Regions from separate parts of the Homo sapiens genome. Here all the other regions are linked to region 4. The links come from fine-mapping of genetic effects on gene expression. A gene starts in region 4. Each other region holds a variant in brackets. All regions are shown on one strand. Distances are from middle to middle. Region 1 overlaps REEP5 (receptor accessory protein 5). Region 2 has its middle 24 kb from the start of REEP5. Region 3 overlaps DCP2 (decapping mRNA 2). Region 4 holds the start of REEP5 (receptor accessory protein 5).

Region 1 (8,122 bases), 28 kb before region 4:
ACTTTGGGAGGCTGAGGTTGGAGGATCACATGAGCCCAAGAGTTTTGAGACTAGCCTGTGTAACATAGGGAGACCACATCTCTAGGAAAAAAAAAATTTTTTTTTTTTTTTGAGACTGATTCTTGCTCTCTTACCCAGGCTGGAGTGCTGTGGCACAATATCAGCTCACTGCAACCTCCGCCTCCCGGATTCAAGCGATTCTCCTGTCTCAGCCTCCCAAGTAGCTGGGACTGCAGGCAAACACCACCATGCCCAGCTAATTTTTGTATTTTTAGTAGAGACGGGGTTTCACCATGTTGGCCAGGCTGGTCTTGAACTCCTGACCTCAAATGATCCACCCCCATCGGCCTCCCAAAGTGCTGGGATTACAGGCGTGAGCCACCGCACCCGGCCACAAAAAATAAATTTAAAATTAGCCAGGCTTGGTGATGTATGCCTGTGGTCCTCCTGGGAGGTTGAGGTGGGAGGGTGGCTTGACCTTGGGAGGTCGAGACTGCAGTGAGCTGTGATACCATCACTGCAATCCAGGCTTGGTGAGACAGCAAGACCCTGTCTCAAAAAGACAAAAAAAAGTTGATATATAAAACAACCTAGAAATTAGTAAGAATACAGAATAAAGAACACAAAATTTAAGTCTTTTTTTTTTTTTAAATAAAAAAGGGTTTCACTTTGTCACCCAGGCAGGAGTGCAGTGGCACAAATACAAAACACTATAGCCTCAACTTCCTGGGCTCAAGTGATTCTCCCGCCTCAGCCCCCCAGGTAGCTGAAGACCACAGGCATGCAGGCACGCACCATCACGTCTGGCTAATTTTTGTACTTTTTGTAGAGATGGGGTTTCGCCATGTTGGCCGGGCTGGTCTCGAACTCCTGACCTCAAGTGATCCACCCATCTCAGCCTCCTAAAGTGCTGGGATTACAGGTGTGAGCCACTGCACCTGGCCTAAAATCTCACTCTAAAGATATATACAGATCTCTCAACCCAACAAAGAGGGATTCAAAGAGTTAATATAGTATATAGAGAGTAACAGGATGGACTCAAAGAAACTAACTTCCAATCCTGGTTCTGCCATTTACTAGCTAAGCAAACCTTATACAAGTTACTTAATCACTTAAGTCTGGTTTTTCCTCTATAAAATAGGTATTAATTGAAAATTTTAAAATTTACCCCTATAATTTTGTAAGAAAATAAAATTACTAAGCATAGCAAGGACTTTCTCTGACCCAAGAATACTGTGTTTTCTAACAACATCTATGAAACATTACTAACAGGAGAACATGTTAGCTTTCAGTAGGGGAAAGCAAATCCTAGAACCAAAAATATTTAAGCAAATATTTATTTTTATTTTTTATTTTTGAGACAGAGTCTCACTCTGTCACCCAGGCTGGAGTGTAGTGGCACAGTCTTGGCTCACTGCAACCTCTGCCTCCTGGGTTCAAGCAGTTCTCCTGCCTCAGCCTCCCAAGTAGCTGGGATTACAGGCACGTGCTACCAAGCCTGGCTAATTTTTTTATTTTTAGTAGAGATGAGTTTTTGCCATGTTGGCCAGGCTGGTCTCAAACTCCTGGCCTCAGGTGATCCGCCCATTTCGGCCTCCTAAAGTGCTGGGATTACAGGAGTGAGCCACCGCACCTGGCCATAAGTAAATATTTTAGAACTCTCCTTTTAGTACATGAAATGAAATTCAAATTTATGATATACTTAATTACAAAAAAAGTCTAACTGCAATATAAAGGAGAAACAAAATGAAAGTAATTTGTAATATATATAAGTATGCAAACAAAACAATACTAGAAAACATAAAATATTCATAAGTAGAATCACTGACAGTGGCAGCTATGAACAAAATCTTCCATATATTCCCATAGGTTAAGAATGTCTGAGGGGTCAGGCGGTGCTGGCAAGATGGCTGCACTTGAGAAGATGACGTTTCCCAAGAAGATGACATTTCCAGAGAAACCAAGCCACAAAAAGTACAGGGCCGCCCTGAAGAAGGAGAAACGAAAGAAACGTCGGCAGGAACTTGCTCGACTGAGAGACTCAGGACTCTCACAGGAGGAGGAAGAGGACACTTTTATTGAAGAACAACAACTAGAAGAAGAGAAGCTATTGGAAAGAGAGAGGGAAAGATTACATGAGGAGTGGTTGCTGAGGGAGCAGAAGGCACAAGAAGAATTCAGAATAAAGAAGGAAAAGGAAGAGGCGGCTAAAAAATGGCTAGAAGAACAAGAGAGAAAGTTAAAGGAACAATGGAAAGAACAGCAGAGGAAAGAGAGAGAAGAGGAGGAGCAGAAACAACAGGAGAAGAAAGAAAAAGAGGAAGCTGTGCAGAAGATGCTGGATCAGGCTGAAAATGATTTAGAAAATAGTACCACATGGCAAAACCCAGAACCACCCGTGGATTTCAGAGTAATGGAGAAGGATCGAGCTAATTGTCCCTTCTACAGTAAAACAGGAGCTTGCAGATTTGGAGACAGATGTTCACGTAAACATAATTTCCCAACATCTAGTCCTACCCTTCTTATTAAGAGCATGTTTACAACGTTTGGAATGGAGCAGTGCAGGAGGGATGACTATGACCCTGACGCAAGCCTGGAGTACAGCGAGGAAGAAACCTACCAACAGTTCCTAGATTTCTATGAGGATGTGTTGCCCGAGTTCAAGAACGTGGGGAAAGTGATTCAGTTCAAGGTCAGCTGCAATTTGGAACCTCACCTGAGGGGCAATGTATATGTTCAGTACCAGTCGGAAGAAGAATGCCAAGCAGCCCTTTCTCTGTTTAACGGACGATGGTATGCAGGACGACAGCTGCAATGTGAATTCTGCCCAGTGACCCGGTGGAAAATGGCGATTTGTGGTTTATTTGAAATACAACAATGTCCAAGAGGAAAACACTGCAACTTTCTTCATGTGTTCAGAAATCCCAACAATGAATTCTGGGAAGCTAATAGAGACATCTACTTGTCTTCAGATCAGACTGGCTCCTCCTTTGGCAAGAACTCCGAGAGGAGGGAGAAGATGGGCCACCACGACCACTACTACAGCAGGCAGCGGGGAAGGAGAAACCCTAGTCCAGACCACACCTACAAAAGAAATGGGGAATCCGAGAGAAAAAAGAGTAGTCATAGGGGGAAGAAATCTCACAAACGCACATCAAAGAGTCGGGAGAGGCACAATTCACCAAGCAGAGGAAGAAATAGGCACCGCAGCTGGGACCAGGGCCGCCGGAGCCAGAGCCGCAGGAGCCACCGCAGCCGGAGCCAAAGTTCCTCTAGGTGCCGAAGTCGTGGGAGGAGGAAGTCGGGTAATAGAGACAGAACTGTTCAGAGTCCCCAATCCAAATAAACTAGTTTTGTTCTTAAAAAAAAAAAAAAAAAAAAAAAGAATGGACCAGGCCAGGTATAGTGGCTCACACCTGTAATCCCAGCACTTTAGGAGGCTGAGGTGGGTGGATCACTTGAGGTCAGGAGTTTGAGGCCAGCCTGGCCAACATGGCAAAACCCCATTTCTACTAAAAATACAAAAATTAGCCAGGTGTGGTGGCAGGCGTCTGTAATCCAAGCTACTTGGGAAGCTGAGGCAGGAGAATCGCTTGAATCTGGAAGGCGGAGGTTGCAGTGAGTCGACATCATGCCACTTCACTCCAGCCTGGGTGACAGAGCGAGACTGTGTCTCAAAAAATAGAATTTTTGGACTAGTGGAACTACACAGCCTGCTTTCCATATCAGACCATTCAA[T/C]CCAATGGGATTCACTGCCATAATCTCCATGTTATGATTTTAAGCCAGGCCTCTCTTCACCTTTCCTATTCCTTACATTTAAAGACTCCAAAGCTTGTTTACTGAGCACAGATCTTGGAAAACAGGATCTTCAGACTTGGGAAAGCATGACAGTAGATGATGGAAAGGTAAAGACTCAGACTAGCATCTAGTAGTCTCGCTACACATGGATAGTAATGCTACGTGCATGAATGTGCAATCATGCAAAAACTCAAATCAGCCTTCTGCACACACACAATGGTAGACTAAGACCTTCTGTTAAAGGTCCAAGCACTCCAAGGAAGCCAGCGCCTTGAGGTACCCTCAGTATGTGCAAGTAGTTCGATGTTACTCTTAGTTTTCCCAGCAACTCTGCTCTAGCATGCCCTAAGTTTAGCCAGCAGCAGATCTTACTGAATTATAAGATGTTGCCAGAGGTTCAGAACCTTGGTTTTTTTGAGATACGCATTTGCATTGACCCAAAATGGAGAATTAAATGACTGTATTTTTCACTGGCATTAGCTTTGTTTCCTTGGCATAGTGCCAGTTAATTACAGCAGACCCTGCAAGACCACCTCTCTAGTTATTTCCCTGTGGAAGCCTTTTGGTTGGTTTTGTTTTTTTGGTTTTTTTTGTTTTTTTTTTTTTTTTGAGACGGAGTCTTGCTCTGTTGCCAGGCGGGAGTGCAGTGGCGTGATCAGCTCACTGCAACCTCCGCCTCCCAGATTCAAGTGATTCCCCTGCCTCAACCTCTCGAGTAGCTGGTACTACAGGCGCATGCCACCGTGCCCAGCTAATTTTTTGTATTTTAGTAGAGACAGGGTTTCACCATGTTGGCCAGGATGGTCTTGATCTGACCTCGTGATCTGCCCACCTTGGCCTCCTAATGTGCTTAGGATTATAGGCGTGAGCCACTGCACCCTGCTGCCTTTTGGTTTTTAATATCCAAAATTCATACAATGTTTTACTGTAGTTGCTTATATAGGAAAAGCTATACATCCCCAAAATGCAATACAACATTATGATATGCAGGAAATGTCTTGAGTAACATTTTTGACAGAATATCAGAATCCTTGGTGGACATTTTGAAGAATATGCAGAGCATCACAGGGGATGTGCTATGTATTCCTGCACACAGAGCAATTGTTACTTACTATATTAACTATTTGGAGAGCAGCAAGTGTTTTTAGCATCTAACATCCTAACATGATATTTGTTATATATAGGTATTTTGCTGTATTTTATTAATACTTAGTGAATTCGTTGAGTTTTACATTGACATGTAATACATTAAAATTTTTCCCACTTAAAATAGTGGAAAATAAGCTTCTGCATAGAATGTATTCCTACATAGAATATCTGATTTTCAGAAATGGATTATCAAGAGAGAGACAGATGTCCATATTAAAACCAGAGCATTAAGGTGAAGTGAAAATGACTCATTGGATTAAGAATCAGGAGAGGTGGGGCTGGGCGCAGTGGCTTACGCCTGTAATCCCAGCACTTTAGGAGGCCGAGGCAGGTGGATCACGAGGTCAGGAGTTCGAGACCATCCTGGCCAACATGGTGAAACCCTGTCTCTACTAAAATTAGAAAAAAAATAGCCGGGCATTGTGGTGGGCACCCGTAGTCCCAGCCACTCAGGAGGCTGAGGCAGGAGAATCACTGGAACCCAGGAGGCGGAGGTTACAGTGAGCTGAGATTGCGCCACTGCACTCCAGCCTGGCGACAGAGCGAGACTCTGTCTCAAAAAAAAAAAAAAAAAAAAATCAGGAGAGGTGGGGTGTGTTTTATGACTTTAGGCAAATCAACCTAAGAGACAGTTTTCTCTTCTGCAGAGTTTTAGGAAAGTCACAAATTAATGTACTTGAAGAAAGTGTACAATAGAATAGTAGTATTACCAAATCCTAAAGTTCTTATTGTGGAAAATCTCTGAAATATTACCTGCCTATGTAGATGCCAACCCTTCAGCAATCCAGACAAGCTTATTATCTTTTCTGGATGAATTAAGTGTCCACAGTTTTGTACCTCTTCAATGTGATTACTTTGTAGGCTAGACTGCAGACTGTTAATTGACTACTTTCTGGTACCCTCTAGCTATTGTCTTGAGACAGTAAAATAATTACTGCTCTCTAGCTACATCCTTAGCATTTTCCTGTTCTGAAATGAAATCATTTTCTTATGTTAAAAATAAAGTTAATTACTGTTCAACTCCCAAGGTGATATTCAGCTGCCACCTCTTACAACCCTCTCTTCTTAATCTGTGTAACTATTCTACAGCCCAGGAATAGCCTGAGTTTATTAAAGTCACCCACACAGATCTGGCTCTTTTCAATCAAGCTGCCCTCAAAGTGCCAGCTGATGATACTCCCAAGGAGACTCACAAGCCCACTGCTGCCTGCAGTTCAGACAGAGTCCATGCTATTTTAACTGGACTCTTGGCACTATTAGCACTGACACAATGACTCCTTAAATTACGAATTACAACAGGCCATTCTATTCCGTCTGTGCTTCTAATGCTGTCACCATGTGATTTTCCCCCAGAAGAGATATTTCCCAGGTAGGGGTATGCTTAACATGCAGTTACGGAACTGAGAGTTAATGTCAGAAGAAAGCTTTTGCAGTGTAGCCACAGAATAGTTACAGGCTACATTGCTCAGCATGCACAAATAAAAGCTTAAAAGAACGTGTTAAAGGAAAGATTTCCCTGTCTTTTTAGCCTCCTACGAACATTAAGAAGAAAAATGTTGCGAGGCACAGTGGCTTACGCCTGTAATCCTAGCACTCTGGGAGGCTGAGGTGTCCAAGAGGATCACCTGAGGTCAGGAGTTTGAGACCAGCCTGGCCAACATGGTGAAACCCCATCTCTACTAAAAATACAAAATTTGCCTAGCGTGGTGGTGGGCACCTGTAATCCCAGCTACTTGGGAGGCTGAGGCAGGAGAATTGCTTGAATGCGGGAAGTACAGGTTGCAGTGAGCAGAGATCACGCCACTTCACTCCACTCCAGCCTGAGTGAAATAGCGAAACTCCATCTCAAAAAAAAGAAAAAAGAAAAGAAAAATGTTATATTCTCTGTCAATGGGTGAAATAGCACAGGTGACAATTCAGGTCAGGACCTAATCTTGCCAGAGTTTACTCAACCTTGTTCTAAAAATAAATCTAGCCAGGCCTGGTGGCTCACGCCTGTAATTGCAGCACTTCGGGAGGCTGAGGTGGGTGGATCACAAGGTCAGGAGTTGAGACCAGCCTGGCCAACATGGTGAAACCCCGTCTCTACTAAAAATACAAAAATTAGCCGGGCGTGGTTGTGCACCTGTAGTCCCAGCTACTCGGGAGGCTGAGACAGGAGAATCACTTGAACCTGGGAAAGAGGTTACAGTGAGCAGAGGTCACGCCACTGCACTCCAGCCTGGGCGACAGAGCAAGACTCCGTCTCAAAAAAAGTAAAGTAAATCTAGAAAATGATTTAAATGAAGGTAAACAGAGGATACAAAGATATTAATTGCAGCATTATGTATAATCGCATGACAAATGTCCTCAATGTCTTTCAATTGGGAAGTAGGTAAATTATCAATAACATTAGATAGCTATGTCAAAAAATACTGAATAACATGAGAAAATACTCAGAATACTGTGTTAATTGAAAAAAGCAAGACACAGAATTATATATCATATGTGATCTAAGCCACACATATGTTAAGACAGCAATACATACATATATATATACACATACACACAGAGTTCTGTTTTTATTTATATACACAGACCAATATATTTGCACATTTTAAAAAATAGGAAGACTACTCTAAGATGTAGGATTACAAATGTTATTTTCCTCCCTACATAAAACACATCCCATCACACACACACACACACACACACACACACACACACACACACACAAATGTAAACAGTAGGACAACAAGGACTTTGTTTTATTCGCCAAAGTATCTCCCAGATGTAGAACAGAATCTGGCACATGGAGGTTCTAAATAAATCTGCTGAATAAAGGAATGAGCATATGTAAATTTCATAATCAAGAAAAAAAGCTTTTAAATTTATTTTTAAACCCTCTTGCTCAAGGCCAGATGTCAGAGCAAAGCTCAGAATATGCATGATCCAATTTCTACCTAAATACATCATATATTATCTTCTCAACTAAGCTTTGATGCCAAGCCATTGGCTCCTTTTATTTTCCTCCAATCTTATCAGCTGCTTTAGAAAAATGAAAATAAAGCCAACAATATTAACTCTGCAAAAAATAAAATATTAAACATGTCCTCGGGCTGGGAGCAGTGGCTCACACCTGTAATCCCAGCATTTTGAGAGGCCGAGGCGGGCAGATCACTTGAGGTCAGGAGTT
Region 2 (8,142 bases), 25 kb after region 4:
TAAAAATAATATGGGGGCCAGGTGCAGTGGCTCACGCCTGTAATCGCAGCACTTAGGGAGGCCAAGGCGGGCAGATCATCTGAGGCCAGGAGTTCGAGACTAGTCTGGCAGACATGGCAAAACCCCGTCTCTACTAAAAATATATAAATTAGCTGGGCGTGATGGCATATGCCTGTAATTCCAGATACTCAGGAGGCTGAGGCAGGAGAATTGCTTGAACCGGGAGGTGGAGGTTGCAGTGAGCTGAGATTGCGCCATTGCACTCCAGCCTGGGCGACAAGAGTGAAACTCCACCTCAAAAAAATAAATTAAAAATAAAAACAATAATGTGGAAGTACTTACTAGGTAATTAAAGCTTGTTTAGGTTTGTGTCTTGTTCAGGAGAAGGAAAAAACACTGTGTATGTAATTGGAGACTTTATAGGAAAAATGTAGAGATATTCATGTTAAAAAAAATAGAAATGCTATGCATAGCCTTAAAACCAACAAAGAAGGAAAGAAGAATATAGAAAATTTCATCAGTCCCAAAGAAGCAACAGGAATAAAAAGAGAAAAAGAAAAAAAGAAAAAGGGTAGTAAAGCAAAGACCTAAATTAGATGGTAAAAATAAATTTAAATATACCAGGATGACTGACTATATAAGTTTATTAGATAGAATTCATTTACTAATAGATAAAAATCATCTCATTTGATTAACAAGCAAGCAAACAATAGTGTAAATAGTTCAAGGAGCCCACTTAAAACCATCCAGAAATTTCAAGATAAAAGTAAAGAAAAATATAACAATCAAATACTAATAAAAAAAAGAGTACGCAGAAATGCTAATAACATAATGGAATTAACAGCAAATGAATAGAATTATTATTATTATTATTTTTTTTTGAGACAGAGTCTCGCTCTGTCACCCAGGCTGGAGTGCAGTGGCACGATCTCGGCTCACTGCAACGTCTGCCTCCCAGGCTAAAGCGATTCTCATGCCTCAGCCTCCAAAGTAGTTGGGATTACAGGCACCCGCCATCACACCTGGCTAATTTTTGTATTTTTAGTAGAGATGGGTTTTTGCCATGTTGGCCAGGCTGGTCTCAAACTCATGACCTCAAGTGATCCCCCCAATTCAGCCTCCCAAAGCGCTGGGATTACAGGCATGAGTCACGAATAAAATTTAAGATGAAAAGCTTCATTTGGGGTAAAAATGAAAACTTTTTAATGATAGAATAATTTAAGTCAGGCGTGGTGACTCGTACCTGTAATCCTAGCACTTTGGAAGCCTGAGGTGATCGGATTACTAGAGTTCAGGAGTTGGAGACCAGCCTGGGCAACATGACAAAACCCCATCTCTACAAAAAGTACAAAAATTAGCCAGACGTGGTGGCGGGTGCCTGTAATCCCAGCTACTTTAGAGGCTGAAGTGGGAGGATTGTTTGAGCCCAGGATGCAGAGGTTGCAGTGAGCTGTGATCAAGCCACTGCACTCCAGCCTAGGGGGCAAAGTGAGAGTTTGTCTCAAAAAAAAAAAAAAAAAAGAAAAAGAAAGAAAGAATAACTTAGTATGAACCAGCACATCCCCAGCTGTGGTGGCTACAGGAAGAAACTCCTGTTTGAGAAAAGCAGAGGGAAAAGTAAAGGGGACTTTGTCTTGCACCTTAGGTACGATCTTGGCCACAGTGGGTGTAGAGCAAATAAGAAGGCTCTTAGAGTCCCTGAGTCCAGGCCTAGGCTCTTGGACTGCATTTCTGGACCCACCCTGGGCTAGAGGGGAGCCTACTGCCCTGAAGGCTGTTTTTTTTGTTTGTTTGTTTTGTTTTGTTTTGAGATGGAGTCTGGAGTGCAATGGCGGATCTCAGCTCACTGCAAGCTCCGCCTCCCAGGTTCACACCATTCTCCTGCCTTAGCCTCCCGAGCAGCTGGGACTACAGGCGCCCGCCACCACGCCTGGCTAATTTTTTGTATTTTTAGTAGAGACGGGATTTAACCGTGTTAGCCAGGATGGTCTCGATCTCCTGACCTTGTGATCCGCCCGACTTGTCCTCCCAAAGTGCTGGGATTACAGGCTTGAGCCACAGCGCCCGGCCTTGAAGGCTGTTTTTGTCTGCTTGTTTGTTTTGTTTGTTTGTTTTGAGATGGCGTCTCACTCTGTCGCCCAGGCTGGAGTGCAGTAGCACAATCTCTGTTCACCGCAACCTCCACCTCCTGGGTTTAAGCCATTCCCCTGCCTCAGCCTCCTGAGTAGCTTGGATTACAGGTGCCCACCACCACAGCCAGCTAATTTTTGTATTTTTAGCAGAGATGGGATTTCCTCATGTTGGCCAGATTGATCTTGAACTCCTGACCTCAAGTGATTCTCCCGCCTCAGCCTCCCAAAGTGCTGGGATTGCAGGCGTAAGCCACCACGCCCGGCCTGAAGTCTGTATTTTTAGTAGAGTCAGGGTTTCACCATGTTGGTCAGGCTGGTCTTGAGCTCCTGGCCTCAAATGATCTGCCTGCCTCAGCCTCCCAAAGTTCTGGGATTATAGGCATGAGCCACCGCACCTGGCCTAATCATTTCAATTGATTCTGAAAAAGCATTTTGTAAAATTCAACATCCCTTCATGATAAAACCCTCAAAAAACTCGGTATAGAAATAACATACTTCAACACAATAAAAGCCATGTATGATGGACCCACAGCTAGTATCATACTGAACAGGGCAAAATGAAAAGCCTTTCCTCTAATATCTGGAACAAGACAAGGATCTCCACTTTCACTACTGTTATTCAGCATAATACTAGAAGTTCTAGCTAGAGCAATAAAACAAGAGAAAGAAATAAAGGTCATCCAAACTGGAAAGGAAGAATTCAAATTATACTTATTTCCAGATAATCTGACCTTATATTTGTAAAAGCCTTAAAAAATGCACCAAAAAAGTATTACAATTGACAGACGAATTCAGTAAAGTTGCAGAATAAAAAAAAACAATATACAACAATCAGCATTTCTATATGCCAACAGTGAACAGTCTGAAAAAGAAATAAAAAAGTAATCCCATGTACAATGGCCACAAACAGAATTAAGTACCAAGGAATTAACCAAAGAAATGAAAGATTTCTATTATGAAAACTATAAAATGCTCATGAAAGAACTGAAGAGGATACCAAAAAATGAAAAGATATTTCATGTTCACGGATTAGGAGAGTCAGTAGTGTTAAAATGTTCACACTACTCAGAGCAATCTACAGTTTCAATGCAATCCCTATCAAAATACCAGTGACATTTTTCAAAAAAACAGAAAAAGGAATTCCAAAATGTATATGAAACCGCAAAAGACCTAGAATAGCCAAAGCAATCCTGAGCAAAAAGAATAAAACTGGAGGAATCACATTATCTGGCTTCAAATTATACTGGATAGTAACCAAAACAGCATGGTATTTGCATAAAAACAGACAGACCACTCGAACAAAGTAAAAAACCCAGAAGCAAATCCACAAGCCTACAGTGAAGTCATTTTTGACAAAGGTGCCAAGAACATACACTGGAGAAAAGGCAGTCTCTTCAATAAATGGTGCTGGGAAAACTGGATGTCTATACATGGAAGAACAAAACTAAACGCCCATCTTTTGCCATATACAAAAATCAAATAAAAATGGATTAAAGAAAAATCTGAGATCTCAAACTATGAAACTACTGCAAGAAAACATTGGGAAAACTCTCCAGGATATTGGTATGGGCAAAAATTTCTTGAGTAATACCTCACAAGCACAGGCAACCAAAGCGAAAATGGACAAATGGGATCCCTTCAAGTTAAAACGCTTCTGCACAGCAAAGGAAACAATCAACAAAGTGAAGAGCCAACCTACAAAATGGGAGAAAATATTTGCCAACTACCCATGTGACATGGGGTTAATAACCAGAATATAGAAGGAGCTCAAACAACTCTGTAGGGAAAAATCTAATAATTCTGTTTAAAAATGGGCAAAATATTTGAATAGATATTTCTCCTAAGAAGACATACAAATGACAAATAAGTATGTGAAAAGGTGCTCAACATCACTGATCATCAGAGAAATGCAAATCGAAACTACAATGAGATATTATCTCACCTATGTTAAAATGGCTTTTATCCAAAAGAGAGGCAATAACCAAATGCTGGAGAGGATGTAAAGAAAAGGAAACCTTTGTACACTGTTAGTGGGAATGTAAATTAGTACCCCCGCTATGGAGGTTCCTCAAAAAACTAAAAATAGAGCTACCATATGATCTAGCAATCCCACTGCTGGGTATATAACCAAAGGAAAGGAAATCAGTATATCAAAGAGATATCTGCATTCCCATGTTTGTTGCAGCTCTGTTCACAATAGCCAAGATGTGGAAGCAACCTAAGTGTCCATCAACAGATGAATGGATAAAGAAAATGTGGTACATATACACAATG[G/C]AGTACTATTCGGCTATAAAAAGGGGTGAGATCCTGTATTTGCAACAACATAGATGGAACTGGAGGATGTTATGTTAAGAGAAATAAGCCAGGCACAGAAAGACAAATGTCACATGTTCTCACTTATCTGTGGGATCTAAAAATCAAAACAATTGGACCAGGCGCGGTGGTTCACACCTGTAATCCCAGCACCTTGGGAGGCTGAGGTGGGCCGATCACTTGAGGTCAGGAGTTCAAGACCAGCCTGGCCAACATGGTGAAGCCCCATCTCTACTAAAAATACAAAAATTAGCCAGGCATTGTGGCAGGTGCCTGTAGTCCCAGTTGCTCAGGAGGCTGAGGCAGGAGAATCACTTGAACCTGGAAGGCAGAGGTTGCAGTGAGCTGAGATTATGCCACTGCACTCCAGCCTGGGTGACAATGAGACTCCGTCACACACACACACAAAAATGCATACGTAAAAATAAAAATAAAAACAATTGAACTCATGGAGAAAGAGGGTAGAAGAATGGTTACCATAGGCTGGGAAGGTAGTTGGTTGGGAGGAGGTGGGGATAGTTAATGGGTCAAAAAAATAGAAAGAATGAATAAGACTTAGTATTTGATAGCACAACCAGGTGACTATAGTCAATAATAAATTAATTGTACATTTAAAAATTTAATAACTAAAAGTATAACTGGATTGTTTATAACACAAAGGATAAATACTTGAGGGGATGGATACCCCATTCTCCATGATGTGATGATTACACGTTGCGTGTTTGTATCGAAATATCTCATGTATACCATAAATATGTACATCTACTATATAACCACAAGAATTAAATATAAAAAAATTTAAAAGAATTTATCAGAAGAGATAGGAATAAAGAACCATAGTTGTAAAATAAATAAAAGGGAAAATGATAGAATTAGAAGGATGATGAACCAAATCTCAATCAATGAAGAAGATGTTAACCCTCCTCTAACGAATAGATCAAGCTGGCTGAAAGAAATAAAATTAGTAAGCTAGATTGAATTGATATAAAAGAAATAGAACAGAGCTTGCCACCTGATGGGCCACAAGGTACTGATCCCCATAAGCAATACAGTGGGCAGGGCAGGATCTGGGTTGCTGAAGCCTCTGCACCGTGACAGACTATATTAACATTAATCAAGCAAGGACATGGGGAGATGGAACTCTCATGTATTACTTGTGGAAGTCTAAATTGTTATAACTGTTTTTGGAGAGCTCTTTGGCATTATCAAAGTTGGAGATATGCGTTCTCAGCAATTCTACTTGTAAGTCTATACCCTAGAGAAACTTGCATGTGTGTGCATAAGTAGATATGAACAGGAACATTCCTTGCAGCGTTATTTTCAAACCTGGGAAACAACTGGAAGTAACTAACATGTCCATCAACAGGAAAGTGGATTTACTAAAATGAAATTCTAAATAGCAGTTAAATGATGTAGAGTAATGTATAAATATGAGATAAACTACAAATATATAATGTGATGAGAAAAGAGAGACTGCAGAATGTAATGATAACACTAAAAATTTTTTTTATGTGCTGTATTTTATTACATAAAATTACAATCAGTAAAATAATATACTAAATTAATTTTAATTTAATTTTAACTAAAATTAAAAATGGTTTTCTTTTATGATAATGCAGAAAATTACTCTGAACACTTAACTCATGCGTCACTCAATATTATAAGTTAAACACTTATAAACATTATGCAACTTACATTTTAATGTCCTTACTGTTCTAAAGGTCTTAAATAATGCTGACCTAATAAAATATTTCATATCTCTGATGTAGCAACAATTGATGCTATCACATGTGAATACAATAGAAATGAAAAAACAGCATGAAGTAATTTGTGAGTTCAATTACATCATTTACTTTTCAAAAAAATCTGTTATTTTTTTCAAGAAAAAAAGTGTACTTTGAATGTGATTATAACTCTCCAAACAACCTTCTACTCCTTTTAAAGTTATATACAAATAGGCCAGGCATGGTGGCTTCTGCCTGTAATCCCAGCAGTTTGGGAGGCTGAGGCCGGTGGACCACCTGAGGTCAGGAGTTTGAGACCAGCCTGGCCAACATGGCAAAACCCTGTCTCTACTAAAAATACAAAAATTAGTTGGGCATGGTGGCATGTGCCTGTAATCCCAGCTACTCGGGAGGCTGAGACAGGAGAATTGCTTGAACCCAGGAGGCTGAGGTTGCATTGAGCCGAGATTGTGCCACCACACTCCAGCCTGGGTGACAGAGCAAGACTCTGTCTCAAAACAAAACAATAAATAAAGTTATATACAAATAATTGATCTAACAGCTTTAGATTTGGGTTATTTTCTATACTGAACACTCTGATTTAGTGTAATAGCTGAAGTGTCAGGACCACATGTTGATTTTAGCTGAATTGTCCTTCACTTTGTTTTTCATTTATAAATACATTCAAGTCAAGCCAGGTTTGCATGACTTAGGTAGAATTAATCAGTCAACAATTGCACCTTTATTGAATATTATCTCTGCAAGGTACTGTAGGAAATTCAAAATAAATATAAGACATTTTCCTTATTCTCAAAGAATTTAAAATCTAATCCCAGGCTGGGCATGGTGGCTCATGCCTGCAATCCCAGCACTTTGGGAGGCTGAGGCAGGAGGACTGCTTGAGCTCAGGAGTTTGAGACCAGCCTGGGCAACATGGCAAAACCTCATCTCTATAAAAAATACAAAAATTAGCTGGACGTGGTGACACATACCTGTAGTCCCAGCTACTCGGGAGGCTAAGATGGGAGGATTGCTTGAGGCTGCAGTGAGCCATGATTGCGCCACTGCACTCCAATCCTAGAGGTAAGACCAACAGAGAACAATAAAACCATGTGTGGTCTACCTTGTATGCTATGTGTTATGAGAATTTAGAAAAGTTGGAGATCAGGGTGGGCTCTGGTAGCAGTTGATAAAGGATCATGAAGTGAGTGAAATCCGAGCTGGGTTTTTAAAAATAAGAATTTACCCTGGTGCAGAGATGGAATTTAAAAGTAAGACTTTCCTTGAGTTATGTTCTTGTTCCATATCTGAGGAATATGCACTTCTGTCAACCATTGTACTGGATTTAAAAGCAACTCAACCCATTAAATATTGGTCCAGTGGGGAACCTTGGGATTGGGTAACTCAGTGCTTGGTTCTTTCTCTGCCCCAACTCTTTACTAGGTTGGAAACCTAAATTGGAGTAAAGATCATTCCATCCTTCTTTCTCTCCCCTCAGAATCTGATATAACTTATGGCAAGGAGCTATACCCATTCAGATGTACAAAAGTGAAAACAAGAATTTACTAAACACATGTTGAGGTTTAGTAGACATGGACAGTCAGGATTCAGAGGGTCCGTAAAATGGAACGTCAGGCTTGAAGTCTGTTCTCTCTGGCTTTCCCATCTCTTTCTTCCCTTTCTTTTTCTGTGTCAATTCCTTGTCTTTGTTGTGTGGCTTCCTCTGTTCGCTTGAAGATAACCGAAAATGTCAGCCTTGATCTATCTAAACTTTATTGATTGATTTTTTTTTTTTTTAAATAGAGACAGAGTCTCCCTATGTTGCCCAGGCTGGTCTCGAACTCCTGGGCTCAAGGGATCCTTCGGCCCTGGCCTCCCAAAGTGCTAGGATTACAGGTGTAAGCCACCACACCCAGCCAGATCTATCTAAAGTTTAGATGCACATTTCTTTTGCTTTTGCAAGTTCACTTCTT
Region 3 (8,000 bases), 78 kb after region 4:
GTCTAACGGCAGTAAGGTGGTTGTCCAGGTCAGGAAGAGGATATTACATTGGTTGGAATAACAAAACAGTTCCATTTTAGGTTTTTGTCTTGGTTTGAGGGAAGCACAGGCATCCTGAAGAGCCGTAGTCTCTTAATTTCAGGGAGAATTTTTTCGTTTTCATAATAAAAATTCTAACCTCTAAACATTCTTTTTGATCTCTATGATGTCCTTTTATAGCTGACTAAGGAACTTTAATTTCAGTAAATTTTTGGATTAGGATTTTTAAAGGCAAGTTTGACTTTTGATTTTTAAATGACCGACTTTGTCGTAAAGTTTGGGATTAGGGTGAAGTGTTGCTGTTTTAGTCTGTGAGGGCTACCATAACAAAATATCACAGATGGAGTGGCTTAAACAAATTTATTTTGCAACGGTTCTAGACGCTGGGAAGTCCAAGAGCAAGGTGACTTATAGATTAACACCTTGCTGAGCACACTTATACCCTTCTTGTGTACATGCAGAGAGAGATCTGGTGTCTCTTCCTCTTGTAAAAATGGCACCAGCCCTGTCAGATTAGGGCCCTGCCCTTATGGATCTCATTTGACCTTTATTACTTCCTCACAGCCCTATCTCCAAATACAGTTACATGGGGGGTTGAGCTTCAACATATGAATTTTTTTGGTGAGGGGACATAATTTAGTCCATAGCAGTGGCCTTTTTTGAATGATGAAAGTATTCAGCTAGAATTGCAGTTTGTCCTTCTGCCACTTGGTGGTGCTGCGGTATAAAAGAAGCTGCACGGCTTGACCGAGTGACATTACCAGTTGTAAACCAGATGGTTATTCCATTCTTCATAGTTTATTAATGCCTCGTTTTTCCTTTTCATTTCCACTTGTATTAACAGATGAGGAGAGATTTTGTTCTAATTTTCTAGCTACTGATTAGACTTAGGCTGATGTTTTGAGCACTTTTTTTTTCTTGCATTTAAGTTACATACATTTAAGTTCTACCATGGGTGCTTACAATTTTAAGTTGCTAATAGCATTTTTATTTAGCTTATTATGGCATTCATACAGTTATATTAATGTTGTTATTTTAGTATAATTGGCATTCCAGAGGTGTTTTGTTACACTGTAGCAGAATTTGACACATCCTCAAACAGGGAAGGGTCTGTGGGCTAAGCCTAAAGCAGCAGTGGCAGACAAGCTACTTAGGGAGAAGGTGTAAGTAATTATCAATAGAGAGCTAAGAACAGACCTCTTTTTAGCAGACCTTTTTTTTGGGGGCAATCTTAATTAGTAATTTCCAATCTTCTATTTGACCTTTTGGCTCACCTTTGTTAATTTGACTATTTCTGGATAGTTTATTCAGTGAAATAGATTTAGGACTGTCAAAAGACAAAATCACAACAAATTTAAAGATTGCAATGGGTTTATTTGCAATTTTAGAATTATGCAACATTTTATTCCATAAAATAAAATGAGCATTCCAATGGCTGAGCAAAGGAGGTAGGCTTTAAAGACAGAAAAGAGCTGAGGAAAGCAGAACCAAAAACCAAATGTACATTGGCGTTTCAAAGTTAGTTTTCTTCTAAAGGTTAAAGCAGAGGGGACTTCCTTATCATGCTAACTGAAACTGGTCTGTTTTGGGATTTGGCTATTAGCTCTTTTTCTCCACATATCTTGAAGGTTAGGAGAACAACTTAGTTTTGGTTTGGTGACATGGAATGTTAGCATGAGTAATTCCATTTTGTTTAGGTCTGTTGGGGCCTAGTGTGGGAATGCAGTCCATACCGTGGCCTCCTATAAGTTCTATTTAACAGGACAAAGATGTTTTCTAGATATTGTCGAAGGCATAATAATCTCAATTGTATTTTTGTTGTGATTTGTGGTGAAACATCAACTTTCTTGAGAATAAGCGAATAATACTTAGCTGTTCACTTGTGGTTTCAAGATTTAATATATCGTTCCTTATTATTTGGCAAAGCAGTGTTTTAGTGTAATGAAACTGACTTTCATGTGCACTTATATAATTTAATAGAATTAATACAAAGCAACTATTGGTCAGTTTATTCTGCCTCTTCCTGTAGGCTTATAGGATGAAGATTATAGACAGGATTTCATTGTCTTTGTACACTGCTGCTCTTTGGGTTACACTTTTTCTTTTTCTTTTTCTTTTTTTTTTTTTTGAGACGGAGTCTTGTTCTGTCACCCAGGCTGGAGTGCAGTGGTGCGATCTCAGTTCACTGCACCCCAACCTCCGCCTCCCGGGTTCAAGTGATTCTCCTGTCTCAGCATCCCGAGTACCTGGGATTACAGGCGCACGCCACCATGTTTGGCTAATTTTTGTATTTTTAGTAGAGATGGGGTTTCACTATGTTGGCCAGGCTGGTCTTGAACTCCTGACCTCGTGATCCACCAGCCTTGGCCTCCCAAAGTGCTGGGATTACAGGTGTGAGCCACCGAGCCTGGCCCTTTGGGTAACACTTTAAAAAAAATTTTATTTGTGGATTTTTATCTGCTAACATTTGAGAAGTTGATACTCCTTCTGCTAGGAGAATTAAACGCTATATTATAATACAGCAATAGATTTGATTCACAGGAGGTGTGGTATAAAAATTTTTGTCTTTGGTGTCTGTTTATATATTTCAACTATTATAACTTTTTCCTGGCAAATATTTGATGAGAATACTTGCCTAATTTTACAGGCAAATCTGTTTTATCACTTTTAGAATTGATTGGACAGTTTGAATCTACCTCTTTTAGTGCTGGTGGCCCTTGCTGTTTTGCCTCATATTGTACTACTTCCTCCCTTGTAATTCTTAAGCTGTAGCCATTCCTGGCTATCTAAACAGAAGGCCTTTTTTCTTCTTGTTGGTTTGGCAAACTCCTATTTATCTTTTAAGTCCTAGCTCCAGTTTATCCAGCAGAATAGGCTGCTGTCCATAACCAAAGAAGACCATCCCCCAACTCTCAAAGACGTCTACTAAAGGCTGAGTTGGGCACTCTCCTCCTACCTCATAATACTTATATCATATTAAAATTTTTTCTGTTGTAGACTGAACTCCTTAAAGGGTGCTGCTTGCGTTATTCATTACTAAATTCACTGCCTAGAACAGTGCCTGTCATTTACTAAGCACAAAGTACATAGTTGAGTGAAAGCACTAAGAACTAAACATAGCTACGTGACCCCATAAAAATTACATTGAGGATGAGATAGTGTCGTATGTAGAGAAGAATAGATTAATTCAAAGAATAGACTTTAATGTTACACCATAGTTGCTATATTACTTTCGATAAATGTGTGTGCAGAGTTTTTTATTATTGCTGAATTATTTAAGAGTAAATTGCAAACGTAATGCCCCTTTGTCCTTAATTGCTTCTGCATGTATGTTTTAAGAACGAGGAGTTCTTTTAGGGCAATCACAGTGAAATTCTCAAATTCAGGAATGTAACATTGATATGGTGCTGTTTGTTATCTAATGGACAGTTCATATTCACATTCACTAATTGCCCATTATGATTCAGCAGTTCCCACCCATTTGCCTACCCAGGATCCAATCCATGCTTACTTGCTGCATTTGCATTTAATTGACACGTCTCTTCAGTCTCCTTTAATCTGAAACTCTTCCTTACTTTTTCTTCAGTACTTTCTTTTATTAAGCATCTAGTTAGATACTGTTGGTAACACAAAGATAACAGGCTCTGCCCACGAGGAATTCAGATTATACAATTTACTTTTAGCATAATTTCCAATTATGCAGATTCATATGACTAGCTATGTATACTTATTTCTGATTTTTGAGGCATTATTCAAAGAGCAGAGCTAAAGAAAATAACTATAAAACTAGAATTAAGAAACATATAAAAATTACTTTTTAAACCTTTTTCTGTTGTTTTTTTTTTGAGATGGAGTTTCGCTCTTGTTGCCCAGGCTGGAGTGTAATAGCATGATCTCGGCTCACTGCAACCTCCATTTCCTGGGGTTCAAGTGATTCTCCTGTCTCAGCCTTCCGAGTAGCTGGGATTACAGGCATGCGCCACCCCGCCTGGCTAATTTTGTATTTTTAGTAGAGACGGAGTTTCTCCATGTTGGTCAGGCTGGTCTCTAACTCCTGACCTGGTGATTAGCCTGCCTTGGCCTCCCCTTAGTGCTGGGATTACAGGCGTGAGCCATCGCACCCAGCCTTTTTTTTTTTTTTTTTAAAGACAGGGTCTTGCTCTGTCATCTAGACTGGAGTGCACTGGGATGGTGATCACGGTTCACTGTAGCCTGGAACTCCTTTGATCAAGTGATCCTCTCACCCCAGCCTACTGAGTAACTAGAAAAACAGGCGTGCGGCCGGGCATGGTGGCTCATACCTATAATCCTAGCACTTTGGGAGGCCAAGGCGGGTGGATCACCTGAGGTCAGGAGTTTGAGACCAGCCTGGCCAACATGGTGAAACCCTGTCTCTACTAAAAATACAAAAATTAGCTGGGCATGGTGACAGGCAGCTGTAATCCCAGCTGCTCAGGAGGCTGAGGCAGGAGAATTGCTTGAAACTGGGAGGCAGAGGTTGCACTGAGCCAGGAGCCCACCATTGCACTCCAGCCCGGGCAACAAGAGCGAAACTCCATCTCAAAAAAAAAAAAAAAAAAAAAGAAGAAGAAAAACAGGGGTATACCACCATGCCAGGCTAATTTTTATCTACATTTTTTTGTATAGATGGAGTCCCACTGTTGCCT[A/C]GAATGGTCTCGAACACCTGGGCTCAAGTGATCCTCCCTCTTTGGCCTCCCAAAGTACTGAGATTGCAGGTGTGAGCCACTGTGCCCAGTCCTGTTTTTTTGAAGTGCAATTACTGGTCTCGAACACCTGGGCTCAAGTGATCCTCCCTCTGTGGCCTCCCAAAGTACTGAGATTGCAGGTGTGAGCCACTGTGCCCAGTCCTATTTTTTTGAAGTGCAATTACTTGTCTAATACACACACACACACACACACACACACCCACACACCCTACCTGAGTTTTTAATATATTCTTGATCTTAATGGTGTCTTTGAAGACAGTTGCACATATTGATAGGTAAACTTTTAAGTAAACCAGCCTTAATTGTTAAAATTATAAATCCAAGCCATCGAGATTAATTTATTAATCAAAAACATTATTAAGCTCTATCTCAAGCAGTAGATTAGACCTTAGTTTCGAAGGAAAGGAAAACCAAAGCATCTGGACTTTTACTCTGATTGGAATGCTCAGACAGCTTGCATGAGTCAGTTCCACATCATTGATGATTTAATTACCTTACCTTCTGTATATAAATGTTAAGATTTGGAGAGTGGGAAATCTTGAAACCTCTATCACTAGCCTTCAGAATTTTATTCTGGGAAAGATATATAGTTTGTGTGTGTTTGAATGTCAGCAATCAGGTCTACAGTGGACTGGTTCTCTATATACCATACCACCTGTGGATACAGTATTAGAAACAATAGGGCACAAGAACTTTTTTTACATCTCATATGCATTTCTGTACCAGCCTGTCATTTCTAGAAATAGTAAATACAAGTCATGTCCCCTTTTTCTGAGTTTTTGTCTTGGGAATAAATTTTAATGAACTAGAGGCCTAAGAACTAAAATGAAAATTTCATCCAAATTTGTTGTTTCCAGGTCTTTGAAGAAACTGGTTTTGATATCAAAGACTATATTTGTAAGGATGATTACATTGAACTTCGAATCAATGACCAGCTTGCTCGTTTGTACATCATTCCAGGAATTCCAAAAGACACAAAATTTAACCCAAAAACTAGAAGAGAAATTCGGGTATGTAACAAGAGTATTTTCAGGTTACTGGACAGTATCCCAAATGAATAAGTAGGGAAATCCTTTTATAAGCTCCTTGATAAAAATTAACTAAATGAATTATTTTCTTCTGTGTTTCAGAACATTGAGTGGTTCTCTATTGAGAAATTGCCTTGTCATAGAAATGATATGACCCCCAAATCCAAACTTGGTTTGGCACCTAACAAATTTTTTATGGCCATTCCCTTTATCAGGTGTGTTCATATTTCTTGAAATGTAACTTTCATGATTGGGATAGTCATCTTCTGTCTGTAGCCATATTTTGAAAGTGAATTCTTAATGTTTCTGCAGACCATTAAGGGACTGGCTTTCTCGAAGATTTGGCGATTCCTCAGACAGTGACAATGGATTTTCCTCAACTGGTAGCACGCCGGCTAAACCCACTGTGGAAAAATTGAGGTAAAGAAATACATTCATGGAATCCTGATTTTCTAATAGTTTTTAAAAGTGGAATAATAGTATTTTGCTTCTAAAATTTGCAGAGGATGTAAGATTTCTTTTTATAGATACTCTTTGTTACTGGTCTCACAGATAATAGAAGATTTTTTTAAAGGGTTTCTGATGAGATGAAAAAGGTTAATTGGAGTTGGAAAGGAGCTTCAGGCACCTTTTAAAATAGTATACTCAAGAGGATACCAACTTTTTAGATAGAACACTAGGAAAGGAAAAAAAATCTTGTGTCGTGTGTTCTTAGTGTTACTTCTCTGTTGTCATATCCTACTTTTAAGATAATTGAGTTTCTAAAGACGTTTGGATGGAGGATATGTTGAGGTTTGTTTTCTTGTAGGGGAGAGGAAGGATGCTAATGTAGTTTGTTAAATTGGAGATAGAACAGTGAAGACTTGGGCTTTTAAAAAAATTTCCCAGCAAGGGACAGTGGCTCACGCCTGTAATTCCAGCACTTTGGGAGGCCAAGGCAGGTGGATCACCTGAGATCATGAGTTCAAGACCAGCCTGGTCAGCATGGTGAAACCCCATCTCTACTAGAAGTACAAAAATTAGCTGGGCGTGGTGGCAGGCACCTGTAATCCCAGCTTCTCGGGAGGCTGAGGCAGGAGAATGGCTTAAACCTGGGAGGCGGAGGTTTCAGTGGGCCAAGATCATGCCACTGTACTCCAGCCTGGGTGACAGAGTGAGACTCGGTCTCAAAAAAAAAAAAAAAAATTGTGTCAGAGATTGTGTATTATCAAGAGTGACTACTACCTGGACATAAACCGTGAAGAACATTTTCTTGCTTGGAACTTTTTGTTTGTTTTTTGTTTTTGAGGCAGGGTCTCTCTCTGTTGCCCAGGCTGGAGTACGTGGCATGATCACAGCTCACCGCAGCCTTGACCTCCTGGACTCAAGTAATCATCCCACTTAGTTTCCTGAGTCACTGGGAACACAGGCAGATGCCACTAAGCCTGGCTAATTTTTTCTTATTTTTTGTAGAGATGGGGCTCTCCCTATGCTGCCCAGGCTGCTGTTGAACTCTTGGGCTCCAGTGATCCTCCTGCCTCAGCTTCCCAAAGTTTTGAGATTACGGGCGTGAGCCACCATGCCTGGCCTCTGGCTTACAACTTAATTGCATCCAAGTCAGTTACAGAGTAGGCTGGGAAAGTAACTTTGTTAAATAAGGTTGTATTTTTAAACATAATATATATTTTAAGCATAATCACCTTGTTTACAAAGTTGCCTATGTTAGAGAGAGTTGATTTTTACATTTTCTGTAATTTGGATTTGCTTTTATGACAGAGCTTCAGAAATTAAATAGGAGTAAACCACCTCTATAGTAAGCATTTCTTAAATCAGTAGCATTCCATTTTAGATGGATATTCTGAGGACAGGAGCTTGGACTAAATGCCCTGATGTCTTTCAGAATCTGTTATTGTAATATTAGTCAAAAGCTGACTAATTCCTGACCTTGAGTGATCTACCCTCCTTGGCCTCCCAAAGTGCTGGGAGTATAGGTGTGAGCTACTGCGCTCAGCCTGCATTAGTACAACATTTTAATAGATTCTTTTGCAGAAGAATTCGAGACTGGATCTTTACTTAATTTGCTCATTCATTATCTTGTGCCCTTTAATTTTATACTTTAGAGGGTAGCTTACTTTCTCAGATCATCTTTCAGCTAGGATGTGGTCTGTAACTGACTTGTGCAGGGTCAAAAAATTAGCAGGGCATGGTGGCGTGTGTCTGTAGTCTC
Region 4 (8,142 bases):
ATCTTTAAGGCCCAACTCTGATAGTCCCAGGAAGGTGGCAGCCCAAGTCTTAAGGAAAATATGAAATAAAAAGAGGAAAAGTAATAGACATTTTTATAGAATTTTAAGCAAAAAAGTTACTGGGTAGGACAGAAAGCAAACCTTCCCCTTTCCTTAAATAGAAGATAAAGTCTGAGTTTGCCTCACAATTCCATTTGTACAAAGGAGCAAGTACAGGACTAGGGCCCTGGCTCACTAGCGCCCACCCTGGAGGGACTGCACCAGGAGGACTTACTCACATATGAGGGTGCAGCACAGCATACACCCTCCAGAGGACTCTTATTTGTGCAATCCCATTAGAAGCAGGGCTGCACCAGACATTAAAGGCCATATATTGTATGATTCCGTCTACATGAAATGCTCAGAATAGGCAAACTCATAGAAACAGAATGCAGATTAGTGGTTTCCAGGGGCTGGGTAGGAGGAATAGGGAGTGATTGGTGATGGTTTCCCTTTGGGGTGATAAAAATGTTTTGGAATTAGACAGTGGTGATGGTTACACAACTCTGAACATACTAGCCACTGAACTGCATACTTTAAAAGTGTACAATTTATAAGTATCTAAATTATATCTTAGCAATGGGGGGAGGTCTATCTTTATAATAAACATTTCCAGTAGTCTGCCTCCTGTTATCAGTAAAAGAGGGAAGTAAGGAGATTAAGGTAATTATGTCAACAGTTCTTGATGAAAGGAAGGCTGGAATTAGATTCCGAATTGCCTATATAAGATGGCCAAAAATTCTAGAAACTAGAAGTCAGAGATGAAAGACCCTGTTCTCAAAGAGCTCAAAGGGAAATTATGCACACGGAAAGAACAACCAGTAGGAAGAGGGGTATACAATAAGGTACTGGTTGCTCCCCAGTGAGCACTGGGCAAGTCTTCAACCATCTACATGCTCCAACGTGCAGCAGACCCTGACCAGGAGCCAGGTGCACCTGAGCTTCACTCACAGACTTCCAAAGGGAGTCCAAAGGGAGAAAAGCTAGGAAGCCAAGTGAGCTTTTCCCAATTTCATCTTTGCATCCTGCAGTCTCTTGACCCAATACTGACACTACTCCCCTTCTTGTGATGGCCCAAGGAGAGGAAACAGCAAGAGAAAGGCTGAAAGGTGAGAAAGGAAGGAAGTAAATTACTGGCAATAGTTTGGCAAGATCGCGAACTCCTTACAGAGGTCACAGCAGCCAAAGTGACCTTAAAATATAAATCGTATCATGTCACCCCCTATTTAAAACCCATCCAAGGCAATCAGAAAATGCAAACTCCCTACCACCATCTGGAATGAAATGCACACTTCTACCACTGACCCTACCTGCTGGCACCTGCACCTCTCTGGTGCCTCCCCCACCACTCTTTGCTCACACAGAGCTAAGCTGTGTGCTGCCTCAGGGCCTGACACACTCTTCTCCCTCTCCCTGGCTCTGCTCTTGGCTGGCCCCTTCTCATTCCTCAGGTCTTCTCTACCAGAACTGTTTATTTACTTTAGAGGGCTTACCACACGGTCACTACTTTGCCTATTTCTTGCCTGGGTAGACTGCTCATTCAACAAGGACAGAGAGTATGACTACCTTATTTCTTGCCATATCTAAAGTGCTACCACAGTGCCACACATGTGACTGGCATTTGATTTTTGCTAAATAGATGAACCTGTATTTTAAAAAATAACTCTGGCTAGGGAGCATAAGAGTTACAAGAGGTATGGAGAATAGTTAAAATGAAGGTGACTGCTATGGTCTGAATGTTGTGTTCCCCCAACATCCATATGTTGGGACCTAATACCCAATGTATTAGTATTAAATAGTGGTGCCTTTAGGAGGCAATTAAGACATGAGGGCTTGGCCAGGTGTGGTAGCTCACGCCTGTAATCCCAGTACTTTGGGAGGCTGAGACAGGTGGATCACCTGAGGTCAGGAGTTCAAGATCAGCCTGGCTAACATGGCAAAACCGCATCTCTACTAAAAATACTAAAATTACTCAGGCGTGGTGGCACACGCCTGTAATCCCAGCTACTAGGGAGGCTGAGGCAGGAGAATTGCTTGAATTTGGCGGGGGTGGGGGCGGCCAGGGATGGCGGTTGCAGTGAACTGAGATTACGACACTGCACTCCAGCCTGGGCAATATAGAGCGAGACTCTGTCTCAAAAGAAAAGAAACAGGCATGAGAGCTCTGCCCTCATGCATGGGATTCGTGTCCTTATAAAAGAGGCTTGAGGGAGCCAGTTGACCCTTCTACCATGTGAGGAAGCAGTGAGAAGATGCCATCTTTGAAGCAGGGAGCAAGCCCTCACCGGACACCAAATCTGCTGGTGCCTTGGTCCTGGATTTCCCAGCCTCCAGAACTGTGAGCAATAAATTTCTATTGTTTATAAATTATCCAGTCTAAGGTATTTTGTTATAGCAGCCCAAGCAGACTAAGACAGTGTTCACAGGTCACACTTTAAGCAACATGGATTTTGATGCTACTAAAGACCACCATTTTCAAATACTTTTTCTTTCTTTTGGACAATTATACAATCATATTGGTTATGCAATGAACAGACTTGATTAGACTAATGTAACACCGACCGCCTGAATATTTGCTCACGGGGGTCTGTATGCTTTATTCTGTGCACACAATCCCGTTTTTCCTTGAGTCTCCTCCATAAAGCAGAGCCCGGGGTAGGCCTCAGGGCTATATGTAGCTAGACTTTCTGGAGTATGACTAAGTGTCTGTACCGGACTAACACAGTAACAACTACTAGGTAACTGCAATTTAATTGCTCAAATCAGAACTAACTTCTAAAACATGTTTCTTCCCTTATAGTCATAGACTAAATTCTAGCCTAACTAGTGACAGATACAAGCTGTAATAATGTGTTATCTGTGTCTTAGCCTCCTAGGTGAAAATTTTTTCTTCCTTTATTTTTATCCCTATGGTTGAAGAAAGTAGCAGAGACCAACTGAATGAAGGTAAAAACCACTGGCTTTCTTAGGAAGAACTGTAGAGCAAAACAAAATTCATTTCTGGAGAGGAATAATTCCTACTTGAACGAATGGAAAAATAAAATCGTAGAATTAAAAAAAATAAACACATTGTAGAATAAAAACAACTTTGGTAATAAATTCAGATCCTAATCGTAAAAATTCATTTTTTAAGTAGCTCAATTATATAAATGACTCACTTATATAACCAAGGAGCTATATCATGGAGCATTTTTAAAGGTTTTTGTTTTTACACTAGGGTAAGCATTTCCCAAGTTTGTCTGTAACATGTGGCTTTTTCAAAATAAAAGAAAATGAGAAAATTCTCCCTACTGTCTCAATTAACGTAATTATGAATTAAGGAAGACCTAATTGATAGGGTTTTACTCTCTAGGTGCATAAATATATGGTGAAATACTCATTAAAATAATTACTAGACAGAAGTGCTCAGCTCCCTGTACCTTCTGAGATCCTCCCACCAGTAAAGGGAGGACGACAGAGTGGTAGCGCTTTCCTGTTAGTGTGCCAAAGAGAGGGGACACTGGTCACCAGGATAATCTAATGAAAATACCTCTGGGCTAATCGTCAAGAGATAGGGATTAAGTTAAGGTTCCAAAATGGTGAATACTATCCCCACCCCTTATGTCCAACCTCATCCCTCCCCGCCGAGCTTTCACTTTTCTCCCGGGAATTGCGGATGTGCAGTCTACTGCAGCAGCCCTGCGGGGAGGAATGGAGGAAGGGAAGGGGACGGCTGCAGGGTGTGTCACTTACGAGATGTAGGCTGGGTAGCCAAATCCTATCAGGTTGCAGAGGAGAGAGGCTCCATAACCGAACACCAGGTACAAGGCCACCAGTCCGATGACACCTGGGGACCACAAGGAGAGAAGTGGGTCGGGCAGCATGAGAGCCGTTCACGCGGGACAGCCGCCGCCCACACCGCGAGGCTGGGCCTGTTGTAGGAGTTTTCCTCTCGACTCGATTAAAGGAGCGAGAAAAACAAACCACACGAAAGCTGGGCCTGCGCGTCCGCTGGGCTATGCCTTGAAGTCTGGGGATACCAGGCAGCCCCACCATTGTGCCTCTCCTACCTCCCGCAGGGGGCCCCGGCGCTTTGCGCAGCAACCCCCGGCGCCCGGGACGGTCCCAGGCACCCGCTTCCGCCCTCTCGCAGGGCCTGCTGGGCAGCGCTCCAGCCTGGGAAGCTGCGCTCAGCGGGGAGCGTCCCGAGAGGCCCGGACTCCCGCACACGCTGCAGTAGCAGCCCCCGCCCACCCGAGAGGCGCCCTCTCCGGGCGGAGCTCCACGGAGGGTCGGGTAGGACCGGGTACCTCCGTCAACGCGCCCGCCCGCAGGGGCCCCGCCGTCCGCGCCCACCGCGCAGGACAGCAGGAATAGGGCGCCGGGCCGCGGGGCAGACATACGTCAGCGCTGGCCCTTCCAGCTGCCAGCGCCCGGCGCCGCAGCTGCCCTCCAGCCCCGCGACCCTCAGCCTGGGCAGCCCCCGCGGGGTCCTCCGATGCCCACGCTTTCCGGGAGGCCAGCCTGATCCCTGAATATGCTGCTTGTCCCGTCTGTCTCCGACTCCACCTTTCCCGAGTCCTCTCCCTGCTTCCTTCCCCAGCAGCTGGGGCAGCGGCGGCTCCCGTGGCCCTACCAGCGGCGGCGACCCCCGGCCACCCACCAAGAGCGATGAAGCTCCTGTTCACGCCGGTTTTGGCCTCGAGCTTGGCCAGAAGGTCAGTCATGCAGTTCTTCTCGTGCAGGAACCGGTCGAACCTCTCCCTCATGGCCGCAGACATGGCGGGGACCGTCTCGCCGCTCGGGGCTGTTCCTAGTGCCGGATAGACTGGAGCGGCGACTGCGGCGGAGCAGCGGCAGGCGGGGACCGCGGCGCGTCTACGCGTCCTCCACTCGCCTCCGCTCGCCCCGCCCGGCCGCCGCGCGCCCCTCCTCGGCCGCCGCGCGCCCCTCCTCCCCCGCCCAGCGCCAGGGGGACAGCGCCACACCCTGGCGGGGGCGGGCCTGCAACTCCGCGGACGCTGCGAGGTGGCCTGCCTGTTGACAGTCTTAACCCATTGCGGGGTAAAAAGGATGTGGCGTGGGGGCGTGCATTTTGTGTCTCTCGTGGGTCCCCTTCTCAAATCGGACTATTGCAAAAAGCAGGCAGAAAGGAGGCAGGCGTCCTTGTTGCTCCCGCCTGCAATTCACTGCGATGAGTTTGGCACCTACATTGCTGTGCTAAACCTAAGGCATTTTTGACCTAAAAAATTGAAATGTTTGAGCATCGTGAAAGAACTCTTTGGAAGCAGTCCTGCTTTCTCCCTCTTTGCCTTAACTTGGCAGTTTTTCTCACCTACAGACAATCGTTGCCTTGTAAAGACCCTTGAAGAAATCTAACACATCCTCCCTGGGGTACACCTTTTCCAAGCAAAAACTGCATTAAATCTTTTCATGGTGGGCTTGCGTTGTCTTGGTGTCTGATACTGTGGCAAGTGTCCAAATTCTCTCTGTGGAGCCAATATACTCTGCACTTCCTACAGTCAAAATACTCTGAAGAAGACGGAGATTCTAAGGTCCAAGCCTTAGGGCAGGAGCTCATTTTTGCTTCCTTCAGAATGAGTTGGCCATGCTCTTCCTCCACCTAAACCTAGGCTCCTCTTATCTCACCCATATGACTTCCAGACACTCCTAAAATTACTCTTGTTGACTCCTATTCTGCACACTGCTGCAGAATTTTTGTCCGAAGCTCCGTATTATTATCCTAACAGACTAGAGCTCCCATTCCTTGGCAGAGCATTCAATGCCCTGCCCACAACTGGCCCCGAACATTCTGTCTTGGTCCTACACAACCCCTCTGTGCTTTCAAATCTACTTAATTACCCTACTGCCTTCCACTTCTGCAAAAAGTTATCTTGCCCACGCCTAGCTTTTTCCTTTTATGCTAATTCTCCTTCCTCCTTTCTTCCTCAGAGCTTCTTAGCTCAGCTTTCTCAGCTGTTCCTACCACCACCCAGCCAAATCAGTGAACAAGTGAAACAACCTGCTGTCTACTTCTGTCTTTTCACCTACAGTTAATTCTCAATGTGGCAGACAGTAGAATCTGTTTTAAAATGTGCGTCAAGTTGTGCTATGTTTTTGTTCTCAACCCTCCAGCAACTTCCTATCTGCCTGAAGGAGGGCATCAGGGTCACAGGTGACATGGTTCATCCCTCCCCTTTCTGATGTCTTCCCTTACTGCCTCCCTCCTTGCTGTGCCTCAGACAAGGTAAGCCCATTCCTGCCTCTGGGCGTTCGTTCACTTTTCTTCTATTTCAGTGGTTCTCAACCAGGAGCACTTCCTCTCCCCTTCTTCCTCCTGGGGGGAGGAGTAGCAATGTCTAGAGATACTTTCGTTGTGAAACAGATTGTCACACAAGGAGAGCAGGAGGTGGCAAGTGCAACTAGCATCTAGTGGTTAGAGACTAGGGGTGCTGCTAAACATCCTGTAACACACAGGACAGCCCCCACAACAAAGAATTATCCAGCCCCAAATGTCAATAATGTGACAGTCCAGAAACCCTCCTCTATCTGAAAGTATCTTTCCCCAGTTAACCATTTAACTGTCCCCTTCCATTATTCAGATATTTGTTCAAATGGTACCCCTAATCTCAAATTGCAACCCCCAGTGGTCTCTAGCTTGATTTTTCTCCATAGAATTTATTACTGTCTGGCATTATGTTCTACTTTTTTTTTTTTTTTTTTGAGACTGTCTCACTCTGTCACGCAGGCTGGAGTACAGAGGCGTGGTCACAGCTCACCGCAGCCTCGACCTCCTGCTGTGCTCAAGCCATCCTCCCACCTCAGCCTCCCAAGTAGCTGGGACCATAGCCGTGTGCCACCATGTCCGGCTAATTTTTTCTGTTTTTAGTATAGATGGGGTTTCACTATGTTACCCAGGCCAGTCTTGAACTCTGTGATCTGCCCACCTTGGCCTCCCAAAGTTCTGGGATTACAGGTATGAGCCACCACCATGCCAGACCATGTTCTATTTTTAAATTATCTTTCTTTCCTCACTAGATTATGAGCTCCGTGAGGGTAGACATTTTTGCTTATTTTATTTGCTTCAATATTTTAAGCACATTGAACAGTGCCTGGCACTTAGTAGTTGTTCAATAACTATTTGTTGAATTAATGAATGAATGAATATCTAACATGTGTTGTACCACCCAGTATTCCAAGTGTTACGTGGACTAGTTCATTTAATCCTCACAGCTGCATGAGGAAGATGCTACCTGTTTCATCCTCATTTAAGGAAAAAAAAAATGAGACATAGTGAGTTCCCATATCACAATAAGTGGCAGAGCTAGAATTCAGAATCAGGCTCTTACCCCTATATTACATTGCTATTATGGGTTGAATTGTATTCTACCTCCCTAAAGAAGACATGTTGGAATCCTAACCTACAGTACCTCAGAGTGTGATCTTATTTGGTAATAGGGTCTTCAAAGAGGTAGTCAAATTCAAATGAACTCCTTAGGGTGGACCTCAATCCAGTGTGACTGTTGTCCTTATAAAATGGGAAATTTGGCCAGGCGCGGTGGCTCACACCTGTAATCCTAGCACTTTGGAGGCCGAGGCAGGTGGATTACGAGGTCAGGAGATCGAGACTATCCTTGCTAACACGGTGAAACCCCATTTCTACTAAAAATACAAAAAATTAGCCGGGCGTGGTGGCGTGCACCTGTTGTCCCAGATACTCAAGAGGCTGAGGCAGGAGAATGGTGTGAACCCAGAAGGCAGAGCTTGCAGTGAGCCGAGATCAAGCCAATGCACTCCGGCCTGGGCAACAGAGCGAGACTCTGTCTCAAAAAAAAAAGGGGGGGTGAAATTTGGACGGAGACAGATGCATATAAAGGGAAGACTGTGAAGAAACACAGGGAGAAGATGGCCATCTACAAGCCAAGAAGAAAGTCCTGGAACAGATCATTCCCTCACAACCCTCACAAGGAACCAATCCTGCTGAGACCTTGATCTTGGACTTCCAGCCTCCAGAGCTGTGAGATAATAAATTTCTGTTTTATTTATTTATTTAGAGACAGGGTCTCACTGGGTCACCCAGGCTGGACTGCAGTGACACAATCTCCACTCACTGCAACCTCCACC

Evidence for each region. PIP is the estimated chance that this variant, and not a neighbour inherited with it, causes the effect.
Region 1: its variant is fine-mapped to the expression of REEP5 in whole blood (INTERVAL, PIP above 0.99). The same link has a PIP of 0.9 or more in monocytes.
Region 2: its variant is fine-mapped to the expression of REEP5 in whole blood (INTERVAL, PIP above 0.99).
Region 3: its variant is fine-mapped to the expression of REEP5 in whole blood (INTERVAL, PIP above 0.99).

What each region holds. Positions count from the first base shown.
Region 1 is chr5:112,889,734-112,897,855 of GRCh38, forward strand. The region is part of intron 3 of REEP5 (receptor accessory protein 5); the gene reads right to left. It also overlaps a transcript of SRP19 not described here and the pseudogene ZRSR2P1. Among named protein-coding and RNA genes, the nearest start is that of REEP5, 28 kb to the right of the region's middle. RefSeq lists an enhancer at 1,524-2,723 and a silencer at 7,086-7,135. The variant T/C (reference allele first, on the strand shown) is at 3,739.
Region 2 is chr5:112,942,440-112,950,581 of GRCh38, forward strand. No RefSeq gene overlaps it. Among named protein-coding and RNA genes, the nearest start is that of REEP5, 24 kb to the left of the region's middle. RefSeq lists a silencer at 8,080-8,142. The variant G/C (reference allele first, on the strand shown) is at 4,407.
Region 3 is chr5:112,995,461-113,003,460 of GRCh38, forward strand. DCP2 (decapping mRNA 2) reads left to right here. Exons shown (of 11, transcript NM_152624.6): 5 at 5,624-5,776; 6 at 5,897-6,009; 7 at 6,107-6,214. Among named protein-coding and RNA genes, the nearest start is that of DCP2, 23 kb to the left of the region's middle. The variant A/C (reference allele first, on the strand shown) is at 4,707.
Region 4 is chr5:112,917,392-112,925,533 of GRCh38, forward strand. REEP5 (receptor accessory protein 5) reads right to left here and starts at 4,836. Exons shown (of 5, transcript NM_005669.5): 1 at 4,682-4,836; 2 at 3,772-3,865. The coding sequence starts at 4,799. It overlaps LOC105379123 (a long non-coding RNA gene), which reads left to right and starts at 4,996. Exons shown (of 3, transcript XR_948675.3): 1 at 4,996-6,265. RefSeq lists silencers at 4,027-4,476, 4,837-5,106 and an enhancer at 6,239-6,358.